Homo sapiens: one gene and its partners. The protein of the gene in region 1 interacts with the protein of each later gene in a biochemical or structural test. Each region holds a gene or a part of one and is shown in the gene's direction. Other genes may lie near its edges.

What was found. The genes of interacting proteins can lie anywhere in the genome.
Region 2: the proteins of RELB (region 1) and DPF2 form a complex in vitro, tested with the Homo sapiens proteins (one study listed by BioGRID).
Region 3: the proteins of RELB (region 1) and NEK6 form a complex in vitro, tested with the Homo sapiens proteins (one study listed by BioGRID).
Region 4: of the proteins of RELB (region 1) and GSK3B, one has a biochemical effect on the other in vitro, tested with the Homo sapiens proteins (one study listed by BioGRID and IntAct).

The regions. Positions count from the first base shown.
Region 1 is NC_000019.10:45,007,964-45,011,463, forward strand, and holds part of RELB (transcription factor RelB), read left to right. Parts: intron 1-494; exon of another isoform or gene 495-547; intron 548-1,850; coding exon 1,851-1,859; intron 1,860-3,500.
Region 2 is NC_000011.10:65,347,352-65,350,851, forward strand, and holds part of DPF2 (zinc finger protein ubi-d4), read left to right. Parts: intron 1-1,498; coding exon 1,499-1,580; intron 1,581-3,500. UniProt on the Homo sapiens protein: Plays an active role in transcriptional regulation by binding modified histones H3 and H4. Is a negative regulator of myeloid differentiation of hematopoietic progenitor cells. Might also have a role in the development and maturation of lymphoid cells.
Region 3 is NC_000009.12:124,344,949-124,348,448, forward strand, and holds part of NEK6 (serine/threonine-protein kinase Nek6), read left to right. Parts: exon of another isoform or gene 1-2,754; intron 2,755-2,760; coding exon 2,761-2,874; intron 2,875-3,500. UniProt on the Homo sapiens protein: Protein kinase which plays an important role in mitotic cell cycle progression. Required for chromosome segregation at metaphase-anaphase transition, robust mitotic spindle formation and cytokinesis.
Region 4 is NC_000003.12:120,087,948-120,091,447, reverse strand, and holds part of GSK3B (glycogen synthase kinase-3 beta), read left to right. Parts: intron 1-3,500. UniProt on the Homo sapiens protein: Constitutively active protein kinase that acts as a negative regulator in the hormonal control of glucose homeostasis, Wnt signaling and regulation of transcription factors and microtubules, by phosphorylating and inactivating glycogen synthase (GYS1 or GYS2), EIF2B, CTNNB1/beta-catenin, APC, AXIN1, DPYSL2/CRMP2, JUN, NFATC1/NFATC, MAPT/TAU and MACF1.

The DNA.
Region 1 (3,500 bases):
GACTAACATAGTAAAACCCCGTCTCTGCTAAAAATACAAAAAAAAAAAAAAAAAAAAAAAGCCGGGTGTGGTGGTGTGCACCTGTAATCTCAGCTACTCGGGAGGCTGAGACAGGAGAATCACTTGAACCCAGGAGGCAGAGGTTGCAGTGAGCCAAGATTGTGCCACTGCACCCTAGCCTGGGTGACAGAGCAAGACTCCGTCTCAAAAAAATAAAAATAAATAAAATAAAATAAAATAAAATATTAAATAAAAGTATCTTAGCCCAACAAGGTAGGCATTATTATTGTGCCCATTTTACAGATGAAGAAGCCAAGGCACAAAAAGGTGAAGTAATAGGCTTATGGCCCCACAACTAGCAAGTTGCAGAGCCAGGATTTGAACAGAGGCAGTGAACCCAGAGCTCCAGCCACAGCCGCCCAGGACTCAGTCTCCCCCTACAGCCCGGGAGCCTCTGGAGGGTCCAAAGTCTAACTCTGTCTTTGGGTCCCCAGGTTCATCCAGCACAGATGCCTAAGAAGGATTTTCCCAGTTCAAGTGACTTGAGGTTGGCCCTGCCACTGACCTAGAGCGTGTCCCTTCCTCTCTGCCAGCCTCAGTATCCCCATCTGCCAAATTGGGGGGACCTTGGCACCCTACTGGCTTCACAGATCCCATGAGATAAGGGGTGCAGGAAAACTACCTTTCAAGGGGCAAAGGTCTGGCTGCCAGGAGCCACTCCCTGAGAACAGAGGAGGACAGATCTAGCAGCGGAACAGGTTCGCGTCTATAAATCCCCAGCCAGAGACCAGCGCAGGCAGCCCTGGGTGGGACACCTGGCTGCAGCTGCCTTCCGTTGCTGTGTGATTCTAAGGCTCACTGGCGGCCTCTGGGCTTCCCCTTGTCCTGTCTATGGAATGACGGGAGGTCGGTTTCGATTCCTCCACGATTCTGTGAAGGGCTGAGCTTTCCTGGGGAGGTGAAAAGGGGCTTCCCTGAGGACCCAGCATTACTGTACCTCCTCACTTAGGAAGCAGGGGTGAATCTGGGATTTTGGGTGGTCACTGTGGGAGGACAGGGCTGGGGTACAGAGCAAGAGGCTGCCTGGGTTCAGATCAGCCTCTTTGCATCTTTTTGTTGTTGTTGTTGTTTGTTTTTGAGACAGTCTCGCTCTGTTGTCCAGGCTGGAGTGCAGTGACGCAATCTCAGCTCACTGCAACCTCTGCCTCCTGAGTTCAAGCGATTCTCCTGCCTCAGCCTCCCGAGTAGCTGGGATTACAGGTGCCCACCACGATACCCAGCTAATTTTTGTATTTTTAGTAGAGACGGGGTTTCGCCATGTTGGCCAGGCTGGTCTCGAACTCCTGACCTCAAGTGATCTGCCCACCTCAGCCTCCCAAAGTGCTGGGATTACAGGCGTGAGCCACCAGGCCTGGCCACCTCTTTGTATCTTTAAACACCAGCCAGTGACCTCCAGGACCCTGGGGTGGACTTCAGGGAGGGAACACACCCCAATTTGTTTGGAAATTTGGGCATCCACTTTTTCCTGGTGCTAAGACCCCTTTCTAATGGGTTCCCAAAAAGACTTCATAATCCCTGGTCTAAATGTTTTTCGGGAGGCATTTGGCTTAGTTGGAGGATACCCTGATGCTGGGACCCCAACATTAGAGGTTGAAAGGATGGTAGCCCAGAGGAGAAGATGAGGTTTGGGGTTTAGTGCCCCAGCAAGTCAGAGCCCAGGGTTTCCCAGGACGGAGGAAGACGGAAGGGTCACAGGAGGGACAGGGTTGGGGAATCTGTCTTAAAAGATGAAAAGTTGTGACCACTTTCTGGACCTTACCTTTCTCTTTCTCTTTCTCTTCCTTCCACAGATGAATTGGGTGAGTATCACAGGGCAGGTTTGCGGGGAGGCTGAGGGACCCAAGTGCCTACAGAAGGGGGTCTTGGCCTTCCTTGTTCAGTGGGGGTGGGGGAGAGGTGTCACTGTGTGACTTCCAGGACTGTGGAGGGATTTGAACGAAGTCATGCTCCTAAGGTACTTAGCAGTGCTTGACACTTGGAAAACACTCAGCACGCCGGGGGCTGTGTGACTCACACCTGTAATCCTGGCACTTTGGGAGGCAGAGGCAGGAGGACTGCTTGAGGCCAGGAGTTCAGGACTAGCCTGGGTAACATAGTGAGACCCCCATCTCTACACAAAATTTTTAAAAATTAGCCGGGCATGGTGGTGCGCACCTGTAGTCCCAGCTGCTCAGGAGGCTGAAGTGGGAGGATCACCTGAGCCTGGGAGGTTGCCTTGGAAGCCGAGGCTGCAGTGAGCTATGATTGCACCACTGCACTGCAGCCTGGGCGGCAGAGCAAGACCGTGTCTCAAAAAGAAAACCAATTAAAATAAAATAATGTTATTAATCCCCTAGTGAGTACAGACAGACACTGTTTTAGGCCCTGGGGATTTAGCCATGAACAAAACCAAGTCCCTGCCCTCGCAGAGCTGATAGCCCGGTGTGGGAGACAGAGGAAAATGAACAGATGAGCAAGATAATGTTAGCCTGGGCTGAGAGCTGTGAAAGAAATAAACAGGACGAGGGAGAGATGGCCTGGAGAAGACACATTAGGTTAGGCTTTTCTGAAGAGATAACATACGAGCTGAGACCAGGAGGAGAAGCAGCCAGCATGGGTTGAATGGGGGACCGTGTGGAACAGGCAGTTGGAGGAGCAAGTTCTTTCTTATTTATTTATTTAAGTTATTTTTTGAGACAGAGTCTCGCTCTGTCGCCCAGGCTGGAGTGCAGTGGTGCTGTCTCAGCTCACTGCAACCTCCACCTCCCAGGTTCAAGCAATTCTCCTGCCTCAGCCTCCCGAGTAGCTGGGAGTACAGGCATGCACCAACATACCTGGCTCATTTTTGTATTTATTTATCTATTTATTTAGAGATGGAATTTCGCTCTTGTTGCCCAGGCTGGAGTGCAATGGCATGATCTTGGCTCACTGCAACCTCCACCTCCCAGGTTTAAGTGATTCTCCTGCCTCTGCCTCCCGAGTAGCTGGAACTGCAGGCACACATCACCATGCCCAATTTTTATATTTTTAGTGGAGATGGGGTTTCACCATGTTCGCCAGGCAGGTCTCAAACTCCTGACCTCAGGTGATCCGCCTGCCTCGGCCTCCCAAAGTGCTGGGATTACAGGCGTGAGCCACCATGCCCAGCCTATTTATTTATTTATTATTATTATTTTTTGAGATGGAGTCTTGCTCTGTTGCGCAGGATGGAGTGCAGTGACGCAATCTCGGCTCACTGCAACCTCCGCCTGACGGTTTCAAGCGATTCTCCTGCCTCAGCCTCCTGAGTTGCTGGGACTACAGGCACGTGCCACCATGCCTGGCTAATTTTTTGTATTTTTAGTAGAGACAGGGTTTCACTGTGTTAGCCAGGATGGTCTCGATCTCCTGACCTCATGATCCGCCCGCCTCGGCCTCCCGAAATGCTGGGATTACAGGCATGAGCCACCGCGCCCAGCCTA
Region 2 (3,500 bases), on another chromosome or scaffold:
GACAGAGTCTCTCTGTCATCCAGGCTGGAGTGCAGTGACGCGATCTTAGCTCACTAAAACCTTTCCCTTCAGGCTCAAGCAGTACAATCCTCCCACCTCAGCCTCCCGGGTAGCTGGGACCACAGATGCACACCACCATGTCTGGCTACTTTTTTATATTTTTGGTAGAGACAGGGTCTTGCCATATTGCTGAGCTGGTCTCAAACTCCTGAGCTCAAGCAGTCCTCCCACCTTGGCCTCTCAAAGTGCTGGGATTACAGGCATGAACCCACCATGTCTGGCCTTGTCTTATATTTTATTTTATATTTATTTATTTATTTCAAGATGGAGTTTTACTCTTGTCATCCAGGCTGGAGTACAATGGCGCAATCTCGGCTCACTGCAACCTCTGCCTCCCAGGTTCAAGCAATTCTCCTGTCTCAGCCTCCCAGGTAGCTGGGATTACAGGCGCCCGCCACCACGCCTGGCTAATTTTTAGTAGAGACGGGGTTTCACCATGTTGGCCAAGCTAGTTTTCAACTCCTGACCTCAGGTGATCCACCTGCCTCAGCCTCCCAAAATGCTGGTATTACAGGTGTGAGCCACCGTGCTTGGCCCTTGTCTTATATTTTAAAAAGATGACTTTGGGTGCCGTGTGGAGGGTAGACTGTAGGGACAAGGATGGAGGCTCATGCCTGTAATCCTAACACTTGAGAGGCTGAGGCGGGAGGATCACTTGAGCCCAGGAATTCAAGACCAGCCTGAGCAACATAGGGAGATCCTGTCTCCACAAAAAAAATAAACACTTAGCCAGGTGTGGTGGCACACACGTTAGTCCCAGCTACTTGGCAGGCTGAGGTGGGAGGATTGCTTGAACCCAGGAGTTTGAGGCTGCAGTGAGCCATGATCACACCACCGCACTCTAGCCTGGGCAACAAAGCAAGACCTTGTCTCAAAAAGAAATAGTCACTGGGCACGGCGTCTCACACCTGTAATCCAAGCACTTTGGGAGGCTGAGGTGGGAGGATTGCTTGAGCCTGGGATTTCAGGACCAGCCTGGGCAACGTAAGGAGATCTTGTCTCTCCAAAAACATTGAAAAATTAGCTAGGTGTGGTGGTGTGTGCCTATAGTCCCAGCTACTTGAGAGGCTGAGGTAGGAGGATCACTTGGGCCCAGGAGGTCAAGGCTGCAGTGAGCCGTGATTGCACCACTGCACTCCAGCCTGAGTGACAGCAATACCCTGTCTCAAAAAAATATACCATAGAGCTTGGGCTTTAGGGAAAAAAAAAAAAAAAAAAAAGTGGAGGTGATTTGATCAATTAGGAGCTCTGAAAGGACCCAAGTGAGAAATGACAGTGACTGGATCTGCGGTGGAGAGGGGCAGCATGGTTTCCCACATAAGATTCTCACATCTGTTCTTACCTGCTACCTACCCCTCTTGGAAATAGCAGTGTCCTGTAGTGGCCTGAGGCACATCAGTTATTCAGTCCCCATCCTCTTCCCTCTTGCCTACTTCAGGACCAGTTGCTCTTCTGTGATGACTGCGATCGTGGCTACCACATGTACTGTCTCACCCCGTCCATGTCTGAGCCCCCTGAAGGTAAGTTGCCCAGATCTTTTACTCAGAACAATTACTTTATTAGTTACTTGGAAAATACTGAGTTCTATGTTCTTTATGTTATCACTTACATATTCTTCCAAATTAGGGAGTAAAGCACCTTGCCTTGGCTCAGTTTAGAATGCCTTCCTAACATTTCAACTTAAAGGGTTTAGTGTTTGCACATTATCAGCTACATTTACAACAGAAAATCAACAGCCCAGAAGAAAGCAGATGCTGAGCCGAGATCAGGCACCCAGAAGGAATGATTTATTTTCTTCCAACCAGTCCAGAAAACTCAAGTGGTAGATTATCTGATGTGAAACTTCTGCAGTCAACTCTTGAAATTTGATAGATTTGAGCATTTATTTCCTATCCCTTCCCCTTCTGAACTGGGAAGGGACTTGACTTTGGAGCCTGAATGGGTCAGTCTGCTTCTCCGATAACTTACTGTAATAATGGTCCAAATTTATTAAAGCTATTCACTGAAACCAGTGGTGGCACCAAGAATTGGTTGCATCTCCACAAGTCCCCTTCCAGCTGGATTTCTGTACATAAACACCTCCTGTACAGAAATTGAGTAGCAGCTGGGCGCGGTGGCTCAAGCCTGTAATCCCAGCACTTTGGGAGGCCGAGGTGGGCGGATCACGAGGTCAGGACATGGAGACCATCCTGGCTAACACGGTGAAACCCCGTCTCTACTAAAAATACAAAAAAATTAGCCGGCTGTGGTGGCGGGCGCCTGTAGTCCCAGCTACTCAGGAGGCTGAGGCAGGAGAATGGCGTGAACCCGGGAAGCGGAGCTTGCAGTGAACCGAGATCGCACCACTGCACTCCAGCCTGGGCGACAGAGCGAGACTCCATCTCAAAGAAAAAAAAAAAAAAGCCAACAGAAATTCAGTAGCTTACTCAGAACACAAATGCCCAGGAGCTGTTACTGTGCACAAAGGATGTGGGCCAGCATTACAGGCAAGAGAAAGTGTTTCATTGTGTGATGTAAGCTGACTTGTAACATATCGGTCAAACTGCTGTCACCCCTCTAGAGAATGAGGCCCCTGACAATGTCTAAGAGTCCTTTAGCAGCTGTAGGGGAGTACTCAGCTTCTGTCAGGCCCAGTTTATGAATCTGCTTTGGGGAGAAGTCGCATGTTTATGTTTTGTTTTGTTTTGTTTTTTTAAACCATCAAACAGATGATCTATGTTACAGAATGGCTTTCCTATTAAAGTTCTGTGGGACATCGAGGTAGTGGAGAGCTGCAGGCCCGAGTGTCCTCACTGTAGTGTTAAGGCAGCTGAGGGGCAACCCCTAGAAGTATCAGATGTTCTAGGTCAGGGTCAGCAAGCTACAAGCTAAAACCTATGGACCACATCCAGCCACAGCCAGCTTAAATAGCTTGCAAGCTGTTTTGTTTTCTTTTCTTTTCTCTTTTTCTTTTTCTTTCTTTCTTTTTTTTTTTTTTTTTTGAGACAGTGTCTTGTTCTGTTGCCCATGTTGGAGTGGAGTGGCATGATCTCAGCTCACTGCAACCTCTGCTTCCCCGGGCTCAGGTAATCTGGTAATCCTCCCACCTCAGCCTCCTGAGTACCTGGGACTACAGGCATGCCACCACACCCGGCTAATTTTTGTATTTTTAGTAGAGACGGGGTTTTGCCATGGTGCCCAGGCTGGTCTCGAACTCCTGGGCTCAAGTGATCCACCCACCTCAGCTTCCCAAAGTGCTGGGATTACAGGTGTGAACCACTGCATCTAGCCTGAAGAAAATCCCCTTAAAAATATAAAAACTGGCTGTGCACTGTGGCTCGCATCTGTAATCCCAGCACTTTGGGATCTCTTGAGCCCAGGGGTTCAAGACCAGCCTGGGCAGCATGGCAAAACCCCATCTTTACTAAAAATAGAGAAATTAGCTGGGCGTGGTGCTGTGC
Region 3 (3,500 bases), on another chromosome or scaffold:
GTCTGGGATGTGCTCGAGAGACACTGGGTGACAAGATGGGTGTCTGAGGCCCTGACAGGCAGGAGTCAGATTCCCCTTGTCCCTCTGACATCTCAGATCACACACCAGCTTCTCTGAGCCCTCCTGGTGGGGGCCAGGGCCCACCCACCCCCTTTTCCTCGGCTATATGTCACCCTGATGACACCAGAGAGAAGGGCTTGGCATTTGAGGAGCAGCGCTGAGAGCCGTGGCCTCGGCAGTTCTAACGAGGCCCCAGACAGTGAGTCCTCTCTATTTCGACCAGTCAGAGTCTGGGTGGTCACTGGTAGAAGGAGATCTCGCCGTCCAGGGTAATCGTTGTAATCCGCGCAGCCCAGAGCTTTCTTCACAGCCCATTGCCCTGATGAGGGTGGAAGGCCCATGGCCGGCAGCAGAGTGGGGGCAGGCTGGGGCGGATGGAGGAGGCCTGTTCCTGGGGAAGGCCGAGAGGGGTCCTCTGGCATAGCTCACTGCTGACCCCATTCAAAAGGCTTTTCTGAAACGATGTGGAGAAAGTGCTGGAAAGAGCAGAGACATGATGGGAAGTGGATGCCAGCTTGGGGGCTCAATGCTCCCCTCAGCGTTCTGGGGCCTTTGGAGTTCCCAGCAGCGAGGTTTATAAAATTGAGATCAAATGGGCATGATCTGAAGTTGAAGATCGGCTGATTCCTCTCCGGGGTCAGCCACATGAAAAACCAGGGCCTGCGTTCACAGGACCAACACTCAAAATGTCCCTTCTACGCTGCACAGTAACAGTCCAGGAAAATCCACCTTAATCCTCCAGCTGCAACTCGGGGGCACCCAGATCACCCCAGGTGACCGTCCTGGAGTCTCAGCTGCTCTCTGTTATGGCAACAGATGTCCTTTGAAAATGCCCGATTAACCCTTTGCACCCGAGAGTCTCATTTTAATTCCTGGACATGCGTCACCTGGGTGGTGCATTTGGCAGGCTCCCAGCCCGCTCCTGGTCAGGTCAGCAGACCCCAAAATGGGCAGGGCCTCTGCATCCTCACACTTCCCCTGCCTGGCCAGACCCTCCCTGCAGCCCTCCTCCAAGGGTGGGTTTCAGGCTCCACATGGGTTCCCAGCCCTTCTCTGAGGGGCCCAAGCTCCCAGCCAGCCGGAAGACAGAGGTGATGCTGTCCCTAAACACCCACCTGAAGGCACTTGGCCTGGCCTGGGCTCCTGGTCCCGAGGGTGCTGAACCTGGGGCTGAGGAAAGCCCACAGTCTCCAGGCTGCACTCAGCAGCTTCCCCAAAGGCCATCTGCAAACCCAAGGATGGTGCCAGGCTCTGAAGCTCCTCCACGCCCTCCTGAAGGAGGCAGGCCCTTGGGGTCACCAGACCTGTTCATGGACGAACACAGAATGGGGCAAGACCAGGAAACCCAAGCTGACGGGCACCCTCAAACCCTGCTACCAAGGACTCCTCCCCGCTCAGCCTCTGGGGCGCGAGGACAAGCGACGGTTCCCCAGGTATCCCAGGGCCCCTCGGTAGGCGCCCAGGAGCCCTTGGCCAAGAAGCCAGAGCAGGGTGGCCCCTCCGGGGGGGAACCGGGGCCAGACAGCAGGAGGGCACTCGCCCGACGGCACTTCACTAGCCGGAGGCATTGGGCCTCGGGGGGCGGTCCGGGAGGCAGGCAGCCACAGTGAGCTGGAGTGACGAGAAGCTCTTTCCCATTATGGGTTCATAATGGGGCCAGCAGGTGCCACGCTGGGCTGCTGCGCCACCGCCTCAGGGCCACTGTGGCCCCTGCACACCCCCTTGAGGAGTCCCCTGTGAGTGCCCTGAGTGGTGGGGCAGCCTGGCAGCACCCTGACAGCTGAGAACTCACAGGAGGCCACCGCCCCACAGGCCTTTCGCTCCCCCGTGGCTGTGGCCGGCCTTCAGGGCAGAACCGGTGCCGCAGGCCTCACCTCATCAAAGGCGGTCTTGGCCCTGCTGGTGGTGCCTCCTCCGTGTGCCAGCCCAAGCCTCGCCACAGGCCTGTGGGTGGGGACATTTTACAAATGAGGAAACTGAAGTCCAGAGACACAGCGAGTGCAGAGCTGGGGTCGGGACAGAGCTAGGGCTGGCTGTGGAGCCAGGCGCTTCCCTCCCACCCTGAAGGTTCCCTCCAACATGCTGCTGCGCACCTCTATCCAGGGGCAGGAGGCTGCCTCCCTCCCTCCTGAACCCCCTGCTCCCCCTGCCCTGATACCGGCAGCTGGCTTCCACAGGCAGCAGCTCTGCGAGGGGCTGGCAAGAACAGCCACAGTGAAATGCCTCACCCTTCTCCGGCCCACCCCACCCCAAAATGTCAGTCCATAGGTAAGGAAAGCTCTCTGAACATGTGGGGCACAGAGACCTGCCCCTGCAGGCATCTTGGAAAAATCGCGTTTTATGGAAATAAGACCATGCACTCGGCAACCTGCCACATGGAGCCTGGGTCCCCCGGGCTGAGGTGGGAGCAAGGTGGGAATTAGCTTGCAGCGTCCAGCTGCCCTTCTTTATTGCCTTGAAAGTTTTGTCACCGAAACCCTCGTGCCCACTTAATCCAGTGACAGAATCAGGGTAGTGTTGCGCCTGCTCCTCTGTTGAACCCCAGCATGCTCGGTGATTCGGGGGAGAAGTCCTGCTGGACTCGCCGCGGTCGGGACCAGAGAGAACCCATGCCCCAACAATCTGGAGCAGCCTCCTCCTCTCTAGTCCTTCTGAGCCTTGAGGCCGAAAGCTTATCTTCGTTGTTCCCGTCCCTTGCAGATGGCAGCCCTCCAGAGCCCCTTCTATGGAGATAAGATGAATCTCTTCTCCCTGTGCCAGAAGATCGAGCAGTGTGACTACCCCCCACTCCCCGGGGAGCACTACTCCGAGAAGGTGAGTTTGCAGGAGCCGGAGGCCTCGCCAGCCCCAGGAGGCCACCGAGGCTTATGAGGGCCGCTCCAAAACACCACAGCTGTGGGGCTGAGGTTAGGCTCACTTTACACGGTGCAGAAAGGGAGCTTTCTGGAAAAGTGACTTGGAGAGGGGAAAGTAGGTGATTGCACTGAAGAAGGGGTTTCACCACGCAGCTCCAGTGTGGGACCCCCAGGTAGGAACCAGTGGCACGTGGCCCTTGGCACATCTCCACCTGTTCAGCTCCCAACTTGGTGCTCCAGTGGGAGGCCCTCTGCTGCAGGTCCCCAGGACAGGGTCTGTGCCGTGCCAGACATGGGAACTGATACAGGGGCAGGATGTGGCAGGCCTGGCGTCCCCATACCACCAGTGGTGGCCACTCTGCTCCCATGACAGGAAACTACGGCAGGAGGACCGGTCAGTTTCCTCCTTATATAACAGACTTAACACCCTGGGCTTCTACTGTCAACATTTTACACTGGCTGCGGGAGCCGTGGACACAGCTCCCATGGGTCTGGCATGGGGCTGTACCAGTTACTAGGAATGTGTGAATATCTTATTCCTCGGCTCCGTCACCTTGAAGATGGGACTAATAATCTCCTTGGTGG
Region 4 (3,500 bases), on another chromosome or scaffold:
ACTAACTAAGGATGGAGTAACTCTTGTAAAATATATAGATGAAAATGTTTAATTCCGATTACCATATAGGTCAATTTAGAATTTTAAAAGTTGGAGTTTAGTGTTAATTATGTGTTTTTGACAGCTTTGACTTTAAAAGCATTTAAAAGAAAGGGGAGTCTTTAAGCATTTGTTAGGATGCTAGCATTCTAAGGAACCCCTGTTGAAAACAGACATAAGAAATTGTAGTCCTTGCTCTCAAAAGCTTATCCTTTAGTTGTAGAGGGAGGCTATGGGGAAAAAAAAATTAAAACAATAGCGTGATGACTGCAAGATTGTAAAATACAAATTGAATCATTTGTTCAGAGTGGCAAAGAGTAAAGGGGTGAGACTGATGGTTGGGAGAGGAAAGACTTCCTGCGGACAAGGTGTATTAGGACTGATGTTAAAGGAGGTGGTAACTTGAACTGGTAGAAAAGCATGAAAGGTCTAGGTGGAAGGAGTGTACCAAGGAACAATGATGGTGAGTTTTGCATGAGAGACAATAATCAAGTTGACAAATCTGAATTAAAGGGGCCTAAATAAGAACATAAGAACAGATGGAATTTGAGAAATAAGAGAAAGTTAGCTGATGGAGGGCAGAGGGGTTCTGTACAAGTTTGATTGAGATTCAGAAGAGATCTGGATTTATTGTTGGTTGCTGAATAAGACGTAAGATGATTTTTGCAGTTGAATTAGTGAATTATAGTAGAGAGATGCTAGAGCCTTTTTAGGGAGCTAGTAGGGTATGTTGTGAATCATGAGGGAATAAAGTAAAATGTGAAAGTGGGGTGAAAGGAACAGGTTTGAGAGACAGTGTGAATGAAGAACTGGCAGAACTTCATACTGGACTGAAGTGGAATATTTGTGAAGGAGTCAAGAGTTAAAAATAAATTCTGATGTTACTGGCCTGGAAGACTTGACTGCTAAGTTATATTGTTAATTGTAATGGGAAAATTGAGAAAGTGCTGAGGTGAGAGGGTAGGTGAGTTCACTTTCTTAAAATTTAATATACAATAAGTTCCCTTGAAATTCAGACAGCAGTTAGTTACTGGCAATGATATTTGACTTCCTAGTCTATTAATTGCACAGTTTCTAATTTTTCTACACCTAAAGATGTTGGATTTATATTCGGGAGCAGTAAACTAAGGGCTTTTATTTAAATGCTTCTCATCAAAGTCCTAATTTTTTTTTTTTTTATATACAGCTTCAAAAGCCTCACACTTGAAACCTGGTTATAATAGTTTCATGATGGCTTATTTCAGATCAATGAAAATACTTTTGGGACTAAACTGTGACTGTAACATTTTAGATATGTAGCCATTAATCTTTGATATATGCTTAAAACTTGTTTTTTATAAATAATGATTATTACTATTATTTTAAATGCAAAATTTATCTAAGAATAAAGTATTGAGAGCCTTCACTTTGTGAAGACTCCAGAAGAAATTAAAAGTTGATTTTATAACAAGTATTTTTTGCCCTTTTTGTTGAGTTTAGGCATTAATCCCAAATTTAAATCAGTATATTTGAAATACTACTTTTTACTTGCTATAGTGAAACCAATGTTTCATTTTTGTTCACTTCCAAGTTTACATGTAATTAAATAAATGTTTATAAAGTTTTTCTTTAGAATCACATGATATTTTACTCCATAGGGAAAGTAAGGGACTGTTTGTGGCACTTTTGGTTAAAATATTAGTAATCCTTTTGGTATATACAATTGGAGAAAATTTAGCTAGTTGTTTAGGTTTAATACTTAAATATAAGATTTAGAAATATGAAAATAAGTCTGTATCACTTAAGTTGTTTCCTCATATAAAACTTTTTTAGATCAAAATTTCTATTAGCAAAGAGAGAATAATAGTAGCTGCATATTATTCTGCAGTATTACGTCGTATGGTGATTAAAGCCAAAGAGTAGGTAGCAACTTAGAGTTTCCGTATTCCCCTGGGAAGTTTAATCTCTTTATGACATCTAAAAATTAGGTTATTAGAGTTTAGTCCATTTCTTGATAATCCTGTGTTAATGTGGAAAAGAGTTCATGTGTGAGACTGAAAACCAGAACTTTATTTTCAGTCATTTCCCAACCCGACTTCCCCAGAGTTGTTAAAACGTTTAAGATATTTAAGAATTGCATGCTTTCTTGTTGCATGCACCTGTAGAATGCTAATTGTGAAGTGACAGTAAGTCACAGGCAAAAGGAAAAACTTCAAGGGAACCCAGTGATTCACAAATCACCTTATGGCTGATTGGGAACTGCATTTAGAAAATGAGGTGACATCTTCTCATTTCACTGGCAAAGTTCAGCTGAAAATCAGTACTTGCACGCTTTACTGTGTAGCCCTTATATTAGAATTGAGTTGCAGGTGTGAGATAATATTTTGGAGAAACAGCAAGGCTGGGAAAGTCAGAGATTTTATTCCAGCAGCAGAGTCTAAAGAGTGGGAGAGCTCTATTTGTGTGTGCACTTTATGCATAGAGAAGGCTGTGAAACATGCATATGTTGACCCTATTGTCACAGTTCCATACTTTTAAATAAGACCCATGAAGTTGAGACAGGGTTGGAGATGACAGACAGGATGTGAGATTGTGGTGCTTCTTGTGATGCTCCACCCTATAATGGAGAATGGAGGGGCAGAACGCTTGTGTGGGTGAGACAAGAGTGTGTGTTGGTACTAACAGGACCAACCGGGTTCCCCGGATATTGTTCTTCTAAGAACATAATCACCATAAGTAAATTAATTTGTTGGAATGTTTATCATTTTCTAGCTGATTTTTTGTGTGTGTGTGTGGGGTGGTGGTGGTGGAAGGGGAGTTTTCCCCGATTTCAAGAATAAAAGCATTTTCATTGTTCAGAAGAAGAGCATTTTCATTAAAGCGGAGGTTGCACTCTTGGCATTTTATCTTGAGTTATACAAATCATCCTTGGTTATACAAATCAAATTGCTTTTGAAATTTGTTGAGTGTAATGTATAAATGTATATTTATATAAAAACCTATGTGAATAGAACAGCAAGGAAAAACTGAGTAGAGTTAAAGAAGTTTGTTTTCCCTGAGATTTTCTGCCTTTAAATTTATATAAAAAAGGAATATTCCATTTTACGTTATTGAGTTTTCTATTTTTTTAAATGAGCTAATACTCAGTACATAATGGACATTTTTAGTAAATTATTCCAATATACTTGTGTCTGTAATGCATTTGATGTGGTATAAGATTTAGAAACACAATTTAGTTCGGCTGGCACGGTGGCTCACGCCTGTAATCCCAGCACTTTGGGAGGCCGAGGCGGGTGGATCACGAGGTCAGGAGATCAAGACCATCCTGGCCAACGTGGGGAAACCCCGTCTCTACTAAAAATACAAAAATTAGCGGGGGCGTGGTGGTGTGCGTCTGTAGTCCCAGCTACTCAGGAGGCTGAGGCAGGAGAATCGTTTGAACCCATGAGGCGGAGATTGCAGTGAGCTGAGATCGTGCCACT